Linked DNA regions of Homo sapiens. The protein of the gene in region 2 interacts with the protein of the main gene of each other region in a pairwise test. Each region holds a gene or a part of one and is shown on either strand. Other genes may lie near its edges.

Region 1 (3,822 bases), on a different chromosome or scaffold from region 2:
ACTTCATTGGTTACCAAGTGGGCAGGCCTCAGGGGGAAGAGCCCACAGTCACTACGTAATGTGATCTGCTGGGGTGCTGAATAGCTCTCTTCCTCTTCATCACTCAAACAGCTCCTCTTAGCCCAATAGGATTTTAACTTTGTTTGAGAGTGTTATCTCCACTTTAAATTAAATGTCTCTAAAAAGGCCAGGTATAATTGAATATGAAGGAACTTAATGGATCCGTCAGTGATAACCCCAGAGGGCTCCCAGAGACTTGAGGAGGAAAAGGGCTGCAGAAGAGGCAGTGAAGGGGTCTCACCCTTCACTGGGACCAACGCTCACCCTTCAGCTCAGGGCCTCTTTCTTGGAAACTGGCTAATTTATCCAAAATGAGGAAACATAGGGAGGAGTTTGGGTCACAAGCTTGAACCACAGATTGATTCCCAGCTTTACACTGACGCTCTACGTGACTTTGCAGCCACTCTCCCTTGAATCCCTCCATGTCATCTGTAAAACGGGTAGAACAGTACATCTTGACCTCCCAGAGATGATTCCCAGATACATAGACACAATGTAAACCAAATTCTTAACCTTATCAATGCTTTGTTAGAGGGGCAACATCATGTTTTTCAAATCACTTTTGGAAGATGCCAATCATAGTTTTGTTTTGGTTTTTTAAGTCCACAGGAAAGGGCAGATGTCCCAGCTCTACCTCATATCATTTAAAAAGTGAACTCTTAAGAATCAGACCCAAGCTGCTGGCCTAGAAGACACTGTCATCTGCACAACTTAGCAACTCACCTCCCAGGTCTCACAGCGACCCCAGCAGGCATCCGTGGTGATCCGAAGGCCCCTGCAGCCTGGCTTCTTGGCCAGGAAAGTAAACTCCCTCACGGCACAGCCCACAAAGGTGCGCAGGTTCCCACTGGAGGCACCGAGGACACAGCCATAGCCAGCCAGAAGGAGGAGGGCCATGGGGCCAAGGAAGAGGAATGCCAGCTTCATGCTGCTCTTCCGGAGAGGGAAAGGACAGAGTTTAACAGATCTGGCTGCCTTCAATGGCACAGCCAACCATGCATTTGTCACTATCAAAGGGACCTTGCTCCTAGCATTTCAGGGAAAATGAGCCCAGAAATTGTAAATGCCCACAAACTCCAACACAGGCATCCAGAGATTCCTGTAACTGGTGCCAGTGTGGATTCCATGGCCCTCTCTAGATGCCCATCCTCCAAGTGCATTCTCAGGCTTTTCCTTATTGTAACTTAACTGCTGCAGTTGACTTGTGTGTTAAAGAAGTTTGTCCCAGTGGTCTTTCCAAAATAAACATAAAATATGAGTAACACCAAAACTAATCCATAATCCAACAGAATACATGAATACATATAAATTATTTTTATTCAGGTCCAGGGTATTTGGGTGCCATGTTACATACTTTGCTCAAAACTATATTTTCAGTGTCATGATGGGGAATGATTTGGAGGGGTTGATAAATATTAATAATAGTATTCCCTATATGCATCGTTACTAAACCAACTCACCACTAAACATGGATATGCAGAAGATATCATGAAACCTATCACCTGAGTTGGTGGCCATTCATAAATGTGTCCTACTCACTGTAAATTGCTTCTGCTCTAGGCTTCCACTGCAACAGCATCTACTTATGATTCAATTTAAATCCAAATGATGGAAAGCATAGGAGTTATTTAAAACATAACCTCAATCCACCGTCAAGTCCACCCTCTCTGGGTCTTGGTCATTCCCCGTGCTCTTTCCGGAGCCAGAATCAACCCCCTTCATGCTTGGCCCACTAGACAGAACTCACGTGGATTTTGAAGTATAAAGGATATGGCATTCATGGACCTTTACCCCCTACTGAATTCATTATTCTCACAGTTCCTACTTCTGACCTTACTGTAGCAAGTTCTCTGGGCTTCCCCTCCTCTGGAATGAGGTTACAAATACGGAGAAGCACTTACCTAATCTTGCAGGAGCCCACTCTTCTTTTAGAGCTGAAACTTGCACTAAGATTTCAGGAAGTCACAATGAATGGTAGAAGTTTGCCCTGGGTAAATGTCTCTACCTTCTGTTACTGGGCTGCTTGATTGCTCAAATATATAGGAAAAGTCTTGTCAATCAAAACAAAAGAGAGGCAGATCCTTACAGGAACTACTAAACACATCAAAGCCATGGAATAGAAAGCCAGTCTCTATTTTCCAAAACTGATTAACTTAAAGGGTGTTGTTTTGTTTCTCAACATCACCTACTGAAATAGAAAGTTACCTTGGTGGGTGGCATAATCCTAAGGAAATAGTCAGAGGTAGTTCCACCTGGTTCTCAGGAGAACAAATGCATTGTGGCAGATGGATTAAATTTTCCTTCATGGTAACCACAAGTTTCCTTTGAAACAGGGGTAAGTGACTAGCAGCTCATGGCAAACCCTTTCCTTTAACCGACAACATGTTTCAATGCACTGAAAAACAACAAAACGATAATTCTTGCTGGAAAGAACACAGGATCACTACCTGAAAAGATGGAAATCACAGTGAGAAGAAACATGTCGAAAGTCTTAAAATTAGCTAAGAATTAGATGATATTAATAACGCCTTAAAATGAATCATTTAGGAAAAAATACCACGATGTTCCAAGTGATTATCTTCCAGCATGGGAATTAAAGAAAACTTTTCATTTCCTTTATATGGTTTTCAGCATTTTTCACATGTTCTACATTGGGCAGACTTTTGTAATAAAGAGTCAGTCAATATCAATGTTTTAAAATTAAAATAAACCAAAAGGTATGCATTTGTTCTGTCTGTAAGGACATTCAGTGCTGCTCTGATAGAGAAGTTTTACAGATTTTTGGTCTTAAATGATTCAAATAAGAACAAAATATTTTTATGAGTATGGGATATAGTTTATATTTCAATCTACAATAACAGCATATGAGTGGATTAAAAATATACTTGTTCATGGCATTTTTCTGGGTGCTCTAAAAAGTAAATGAAGCAGACATCATCTTTGCCCTTAGGAGTTTTGATATCATAGTAAATAATGATGTAGGCAGAGACATTGAAGATGCACACTAACTAACTAGTGAAACAAAGTAAAGAAGTTAAACCATTTCCACTTTCTGCAAAGAAAAGTGTTCTTTAAATAAATGTACTGCTCATTGTAGATTTCATTTTCAAAACAGATAACAATGCCCAGTGAGTCCATCAATTTACCACCCCTCTCTCTAGAGCAGAATTATTATACATGTTTTATAGAATATTGAACTAGGCTTGGAAAAAGGACTTTCTTCAGCGCTTCAGCCTGTGAGTAGCATAACCAGAACTGGAGTACTCTGGGGACGGACTGCTCAGCTGGCCTGATCTTCCTAACTTGCTGGCCAAGAGCTGGCCAGTCGGCAGTGAGCTGCCATCCTGGGCTGTTTCTGAAGACGGCTGCCCAACCCTTTAAGACCTGAAACATACACACTTGTGTCTGCAGAGTCACACAATAAAGACAGATTACAAAGGCCAAGAGCATCTTTCTTTCACAATCCCCAAGTTCTTTATAATGCAGAGATGTGGCATCATGCATTCCACCCTGTCAGCATTAACTTTATAAAAATGACAATTTGGCCGGGCGCGGTGGCTCACGCCTGTAATCCCAGCACTTTGGGAGGCCGAGGCGGGCGGATCACGAGGTCAGGAGATCGAGACCATCCCGGCTAAAACAGTGAAACCCCGTCTCTACTAAAACTACAAAAAATAGCCGGGCGTAGTGGCGGGCGCCTGTAGTCCTAGCTACTTGGGAGGCTGAGGCAGGAGAATGGCGTGAACCCGGGAGGCGGAGCTT
Region 2 (3,600 bases):
TCAAAGAGTCTTTGATTAGAATGGAATCCAGCTGGCATGGACATAACAAACCTTCTCCACCCCATCCGAGCTCATAGAGCATTAAGTCTTACCACTGCCAGCCCAGGCCTATGGCTATAATGCTAAATGATGGTGGTTTTCTTAATCATCAGCCTGGTATTAATGGCCAGCAAGGATATCATGTCAGCAAATTATAAGAGCTTGGTTACGGCTGGGCGCGGTGGCTCATGCCTGTAATCCCAGCACTTTGGGAGGCCAAAGCGGGCAGACTACTTGAGGTCAGGAGTTTGAGACCAGCCTGGCCAACATGGTGAAACCCCATCTGTACTAAAAATACAGAAGTTAGCAGAGCGTGGTGGCTTGCGCCTGTGGTCCCAGCTACAAGGGAGGCTGAGGCAGGAGAGTCACTTGAATCCGGGAGGCGGAGGTTGTAGTGAGCCAAGATTGCACCACTTCACTCCAGCCTGGGTGACAGAGCAAGACTCCATCTCAAGAAAAAAAAAAAAGAGCTTGGTTACTCATAATATGTTGGAAGCATCACAGTCCTGATAAAGTGGGATATCTCATTCTTAAGACGATGGCATTTTAGTGGTGACTTTAGTTCTGTTTAGTCTAGTTCTGCTTATTCTGTGCAGAAAGCGTATTGCTTCATTCTAAAAACCCCAAAATCCTACAGCATGTATCCTATCAATATGACAACTTTCATATCTTTGATTAGAATCACATGGCTAGAAAAGGGATTTGGAAGTCATTAACCAGCAGGGAGGTTTATGCCAGCATTACATAGCAGATGGATAAACTGTAAACAATCTGAATGTTTCAAACTTGCACAATTTTTTGGTGCAATCAAAATATAGAAAATTATGCAGTCATTAAAAGTGCTGCTGAGTGAATATAATTTAAAGAAGTATTTCTGATATATTATTAAGCTTAAAAAGCAGGATATGAAAATATATGCAATATAATGCCAACCATGTAAGATCAAAGATAGAGAAATGGAGAGAGATATATTGGGAAAGGCAGAGAAAAAAACCAAACTGGAAGAACATACTCCAAAATGTTAACAGTGGTTATCTCTGGGAAAGAGGATAACTGTAGCTTTATATTTTCCTCTTCATCCTTTTCCATATTCCTGGATTCTCCAGAATAAGATTGCATTATTTTTAAAACTAAACAACTTTTAAAAGTAGTTTCATCAAAGTATAGTAAATGTATTTTATGGAAATTTTCCTAGTGTACAGTAAACATATTATTTAAAATGAAAAAAAGATATCCTACCCAGACAGAAGCCCTAGAGAAGAACATCAGGACAAATACGATAACAAAATACCAAAGCAGGAAGCTCCCTATGGTTCCACAAGAGTCATCCTTCCAGCATTCATAATCCTGATTTGGAATGGCACAATTTACAGGTATTGGGGGAGGATCTACCTCCCAAAATAAGGAAAAAAGGTCTCCCATGATGACTCCTTGCTCAGAAAATAAACCATGCTTAAAGGGATAAAGATGACTGGGAACTACTTCACTCCCTCTATGATGTATGACAATTTCCTTGGCAACCTATTATGACACATACTTAAGCAACTGTTCTAGGAACTGACAAATGCTTCTTGGACTTCTAAGTTTGTGGAAGGTTATTCAAATTACTCCTCTGAATGTTTATGTTATTTTCCCCCATACCTCAATATGGTGCATTCTGCCTTAATTTTTTTTCCTAAAACTTGTATATGCTATATTTTCCTATCTTCACGTCTAAGTGTTTAATGTATCCACTCATTTTAATTCAGTCTCTTTTATATGTATCATGCCATTGCAAATTATCATAGACAGTTCTAATGTATTACCGATCAAACTGTGTTCCCTAAAATTCATATGTTGAAGCCCTCACCTCCAGTGTGACTCTATTTGGAGACAGGGCCTTTAAGGAGGTAATTAAAGTTAAATGAGGTCATAAGGGCCCTAATCCAATACAATTGGTATCCTTACAAGAAGACAGCAAGGATTCACGAGCACAGAAATCAAGGTCACAATACAAGGGGGCCGTCTGCAAGGAGACCCGCCTCAGGAGAAACCAACCCTGCTGACAATTTGATCTTAGACTTCCAGCCTCCAAAATTATGAAAAAAATAATTTCTGTTGTTTAAGCCACCTGTCTGTGATATTGCGTTATGGCAGCCCTAATACATAATGCTGTCATTTGGTCAGTGGTGTTCTTTTTTAAGCCTTGAATAAATGCACAACAGCTTATAGATTAAGAGGGAAAAACACAGATGTGCCCGTTATGAACTACTATGAACTACATCAAATGCATACAATTTCTTCTTAGGAAAGAGTCACATATGGAGGGGGTGGGAAACCGGTATTCTAATTTTTTTTTTTTTTTTTTTTAGCAGGGTCTCACTCTGTCGCCCAGACTGGAATGCAGTGGCACCATCTTGGCTCACCGCAACCTCGGCTTCCCAGGCTCAAGTGATTCTCCTGCCTCAGCCTCCAGAGTAATTGGGATTACAGGCGCATGCCACCACGCCCTACTAATTTTTTGTCTTTTTAGTAGAGACAGGGTTTCAGCGTCTTGGCCAGGCTGGTCTCCATCTCCTGACCTCGTGATCCGCCCGCCTCGGCCTCCCAAAGTGTTGGGATTACAGGCGTGAGCCACCGCGCCCGGCCGGTATTCTAATTTTGATTGCACCTTGAGCCCTTTCACTTTGAACAATTTTCCAGTTAGTTCATCTCTAAATCTAAAACTAGAGCAAAACAACATTGCTGCTAAAGCAATCTAAAAATGATAAAACTTAACAGCTCTTCAAGAGCACAGCATACCTGCCGATTTTCATTAATATACAATACCACGTGGTATTAATCTTAGGATCATTTTAGGAAAAACTTTGGCCATTGGACATACATGATGTAATCCACTAGCTTACTGTGGCATGGCTTAATGTTTTTATTAGGAGGCACACTTCAGAACAAGTCCCCAGGCCCTGGGTTTCTGGCTGTGGACTCTAACGCGTCATCTCCTCCAGGAAGCTCGCGAGAGCTGGGGCTGGGCTGGATGCGCCTCCTTGGGGAGCACTGCATCCACCTCACCTGCCACCGAAATGCATCTGTGGGCCTCCGCTGGGGTTGAGCTCCTCTGGGTAATAACCAGGAAGGTCTTATTTTCTATATCCGTGCGCCTGGCTCAGCGGCACACTTGTAGGTATTTGTGCTAAATAAAACAAAGCTCAACCTTTTCCTCAGGATGAGCAGCTCTTCCAAAAAATACATACGAAAATGTGTTATTATTTTTAACCTCAAAACCACTAGCAACTTCAATAAAACAAATTTTGGGTGTGCTTGTTATTGCTGCACCCTATTAAACAGATTAAGAATTTAGGCCGGGCGCGGTGGGCCACGCCTGTAATCCCAAAAGGCGGTGGGAGGCCAGCAGGCGTTTGGGAGGCTGAGGCGGGCGGATCCCTTGAGGTTAGGAAATCGAGACCAGACTGGCCAACATGGCGAAACCCTGTCTCTACCAAAAAAAAAATTACATGGGGTCAGGACTCTTGACATAGATACTTTAACACAGGGGAAAGAAATGCTTTGTCACTGATGGTGTCT
Region 3 (3,822 bases), on a different chromosome or scaffold from region 2:
GGGGTAATTTGTGACAGCAGCCTCAGGAAACTAACACAAAGACCAAACAGTCCTCTTGGCTCAGTTCTGCACAATCCTCACTTTATCCCCCCGAATCCCCCCACCAGAGGGCCATGGAGGGTCCCACTGGGCACCAGGCCTGGTCCATGGGGAGCGACAAAGAACCTTCTGCTGTCATTAACCGCGATGGTTTATCACAATCATGACCCTCCCCGAGGCCTCTCCTACGGTAACAGCAACATCTACGGTTCCACACCCACAGGGAAAACGGATTCAGAGCAGCAGCAGGGGGCGGGCAGGCTGTGGGGCCGACAGTGAACATGGAGGCAGGCTGGTGGCTGGGAGGGCTCCATGTGGGCCTGGCTGAGGAGCCAGGGATCTGGAGTCAGAACCGGGGGAAGGCAGCTGGAACCCAGTAGTGGACTTGGAATTCCGCAAATCGTCCTCAAACGTCTTCAGCCAGAAGCGACGGCGGCAGCGGCGCCTGCAGACAGGCGTCAGGAAGCTTCGCTGCTGAGGGTATTTCTCAGGCTGGGCTGGGCTGGGAGGCCCAGGTCCTTGCAGGAGGAGAGGGCCTGAACACCGGCCCTTCAAGCTCCCTAGTCAGTCAGTCTTGGGCACCGGGCTCCTGAGGGCTGACAGTGTGATGAGGAGCTGGGCAGCATAGTAGGTGGTCATGATCACCAGGTGGGCATGGGGCAGGGGCTGGGCGAAGGTGTCCCAGGCCAGCACGCCATCAGAGAGCGTGAAGAGCAGCGCGCCCCAGCCGGCACTCCCGCCCTGGGCCAGGCCGCGCCACAGCATGGCCATCAGGATCAGCCCATAGGCTGCCACCGGCAGGACCATATCCGGCTCGAGGTGCTGGAGCACAAGGCTGAGGTAGGGGCCAGGGGCCAGGATGATGAGCAGCAGCAGGCCGGGCTGCAGGGGAGAGAAGCCGAAGGCCCAGACGTAGAGGAGGTGGGCGGTGGCAAAGGCGGCCATGCCTGGCGGGAGAGGGGTGGGGTACCAGTGAGGAAGGCCCATCCTGGGAATGGCCCCGAGGTCACCCCTCAGGGCCTAAGAGAAGGACCATCCCAGAGCACCAGGCCCCACCCTGGCCGAGCCTCCTTGCAGGTCTCCCCACATGCAGTGTCCATCCTTGCTCTGCTCAGAACTGCCAGGAGGCCCCACCTTCCCTTGGCCTCCAAAGCCCCATGGCCTCCAGCTCTCCAGCCACTCTGCGCCAGCCACCCTGGCCTGCTGGGCTACAAGCACCTGACACGTCCCTGCCCCGGAGCCTTTACACTCGCCCTTCCTCCACACAGGCATACAGCCCTTCAGCTCTGCCCAAATGTGACTTCCTCAGTGAGGCCTTCCTCAGCAACCCTGCTTCAAACTGCAGTACCTCCAGCAGGTCCTCACTGCCCTCTGCGCCACCTCAGCTACTGCCCTAACACCGCCTGCCCCCACCCCTCGCTGGAGCGTGAGCTGCCTCGGTCACGGCTGCGCCCCCCACTGTGCCTTTGACCACTGGAGCTCTCACAGGAGCCCTCTGCACCCAGGCTCCCATCCAAGTGCTGGGGCCTCTCTCACACGGGCATCTGGAAAGCGTCACAGCACCTTCCACTCACCAGGGACGAAGGCTGCCGGCCAGATGAGGCAAGCGTCCCCCACAGCCGAGCACACAAGGGCTCCCTGGAGGAGCTGGGTGTAGCCCCCGCTTGGGGACATGACCCACAGGAACCCAGCCAGGCAGAGGACGGGCAGGCACTTGACCAGGGCAGCGAACCAGGACAGCTGGTCCTCGGGAATCCAGAGGCAGAAGTACACGCAGCAGGAGAGGATGAAGGGGCTCAGCCACCTGCAGACATCTGGGCGCTTTGGGGAGTGGGGAGCTACTGAGCCGAAACCCAGCCCAGCCCCCATTCTTGGGACTCAGATCTCATGGCTCCTGTCCCACCCCCACCTGGGACCCCAGCTGTACAGGCTGGACCCATTCAGGGACCAGGCTGCCAGAACCCAGCTTCCCAGGGCCCAACCAACTCAAGGACAGCAGCTCCCAGACCCGCCGGCTGCTGGGGTTCCAGGGCCCTGTCCCCCCAGCCCCAGGCACAGCTCAGAAGGCTCTCACCTGGGCTGAGCAGTGAGTCTTCAGGGTCTGCCCCGCTTTGCCAGCGTCCATGCTGGCCTGATAGCCCCAGAGCGACCTAATCTGGGAGCGAGTGGCTTCAGGGGGTGGAGGGGAGGGCTCATGGTTACACGTTAACCCAAGGAGCGTCCTGTGGACTCTGTGACTGATAACAGGGCCCAGGGAGATGTTGTCCTCACCCTGGGGATGGCCCTGCCTGGCGCCCGCTGATAAAGCACTGTTGGCACTGGGGGTCCCTCTGCCCTAGCCTGCTGGGACATGGCTTCCTCCTCCTATCTGCCTGGGGAGGTTAGGCCCACAAATGCCTGTCCCCTTGTCCTGGGCCCCAACAATCAGAAGAGATGGGGTGCAGAATTCCAACAGCCACCCCATCATGGGAAGCGGGAGAGGGGCTGGCTGGCAGGAGTGCCCCTGGAGGGATGGGAAGGCGAGTCTGTCCTTCACTTGCTGCCCTAGCCGTCTCCCTCCCTGCTCCATGAAACCTTTCCTCATTCTGCTCAACCCCACCAAGCCCTCAGGGGCTCCACCACAAACACTGCTTCAATGGGTGACCAGGAGGGACCACCACGAATGCGGGGAACAAGCACCCTCTCCTGTTAGCTGAGCGAGCCCCCAGGTGACCTCCAAGCCAACTGCCACCCCAGTGAGGACGCTGTCCTCATGGCCCGGTCCACACGCTCCGGTTTCCCAGCGCCGCTCACCGGTGCCACTCGCTGCACACGCAGCCTACACTTCTACCTTCTACCTGAAAGACTCAGACCTACTGGGCGCCAGTACCCAGCCTCAATGCTGGGCTTGGTTACTGGGGGTAAGCAGGGGCAGGAGCAGGGATTTGAGCCTGTCGGTGGCTTCTATCCTCTGCCCAAGGCCCTGCCCACAGGTGGGGTAGACCTGGCAGGAGCCCTCACAGCCAGTGCCTGGCCCAGCCTGGGGCCTCTGCAGCCACAGGGCTCCCTCTGGCAGGACAGTGTGGGGGCAGACTGGGTCAGGAGCACCCCCAGCCTCTGGGGTGCAGGGATAATACAGGCTCCCCACCCCGCATCCCAGAACGTAAGGTCTGACCAGCAGAATCGTAAACTGCCTTCCTTTATTTATATTTGCAATATGAAATAGAAGCTCGGCACAAACGCACGCACACTCACACCAGCCTGGGAGGAGGGAGCTGGGGACAAGGTCACTTGGCAACAGGGCTGGGACCTCAGACCCTCAAGGCCCCTGGGGCTGTTGCCGGGGAGGCCCCTGCTCCCCAGAGCCGGACTGGCCTGGTTGAAAGTGCAGGGTCTGGGCAAAGGCACGGCCCCCACTCGGGACCCTCTGGCACCCCCACCCACGCTGGGCCGTCCCCCATGGTGGACCTGAGCTAAAAGGCCGGGTGTGGGCGTGGCCGTCTGCGCTGCAGCGTGGGACAGCTGGGCACGTGGGTGGCAACCTTGGGACCCCTAACACCAGCTCCCGCTGGGACGGAACAGGGAAGGCTGTGCTTTGGAGCCGCCAGCCCAGTTCGGTGTCCTCACTCTCTCTCGCTCTCCTCCCTCTCTCTATATAATATATAATATATGTTTCTCTCTCTCCATTCTCTCTATTTGACTCTCTGTATCTTTATTCTAGGAGGCAACGCTCCAAAACTTCTCTTCTCAGTGCAAATGGGGGTGGGTTGGGCCTGTCTCCCTGGCACCAGCCTCCTGGGGGTC

What was found.
Region 1: the proteins of SSMEM1 (region 2) and GPHB5 interact in binary tests that used the Homo sapiens proteins (3 or more experiments, as listed by UniProt).
Region 3: the proteins of SSMEM1 (region 2) and TMEM86B interact in binary tests that used the Homo sapiens proteins (3 or more experiments, as listed by UniProt).

What each region holds. Positions count from the first base shown.
Region 1 is NC_000014.9:63,316,863-63,320,684, forward strand, and holds the start of GPHB5 (glycoprotein hormone beta-5 precursor), read right to left. Parts: upstream 2,074-3,822; 5' UTR 1,962-2,073; intron 989-1,961; 5' UTR 988-988; coding exon 784-987; intron 1-783. UniProt on the Homo sapiens protein: Functions as a heterodimeric glycoprotein hormone with GPHA2 able to bind and activate the thyroid-stimulating hormone receptor (TSHR), leading to increased cAMP production. Plays a central role in controlling thyroid cell metabolism.
Region 2 is NC_000007.14:130,205,772-130,209,371, reverse strand, and holds the start of SSMEM1 (serine-rich single-pass membrane protein 1), read right to left. Parts: upstream 1,513-3,600; 5' UTR 1,462-1,512; coding exon 1,279-1,461; intron 86-1,278; exon of another isoform or gene 1-85.
Region 3 is NC_000019.10:55,226,578-55,230,399, forward strand, and holds TMEM86B (lysoplasmalogenase TMEM86B), read right to left. Parts: upstream 2,187-3,822; 5' UTR 2,165-2,186; coding exon 2,114-2,164; exon of another isoform or gene 1,909-2,113; coding exon of another isoform or gene 1,861-1,908; coding exon 1,614-1,860; intron 987-1,613; coding exon 604-986; 3' UTR 61-603; downstream 1-60. UniProt on the Homo sapiens protein: Catalyzes the hydrolysis of the vinyl ether bond of choline or ethanolamine lysoplasmalogens, forming fatty aldehyde and glycerophosphocholine or glycerophosphoethanolamine, respectively and is specific for the sn-2-deacylated (lyso) form of plasmalogen.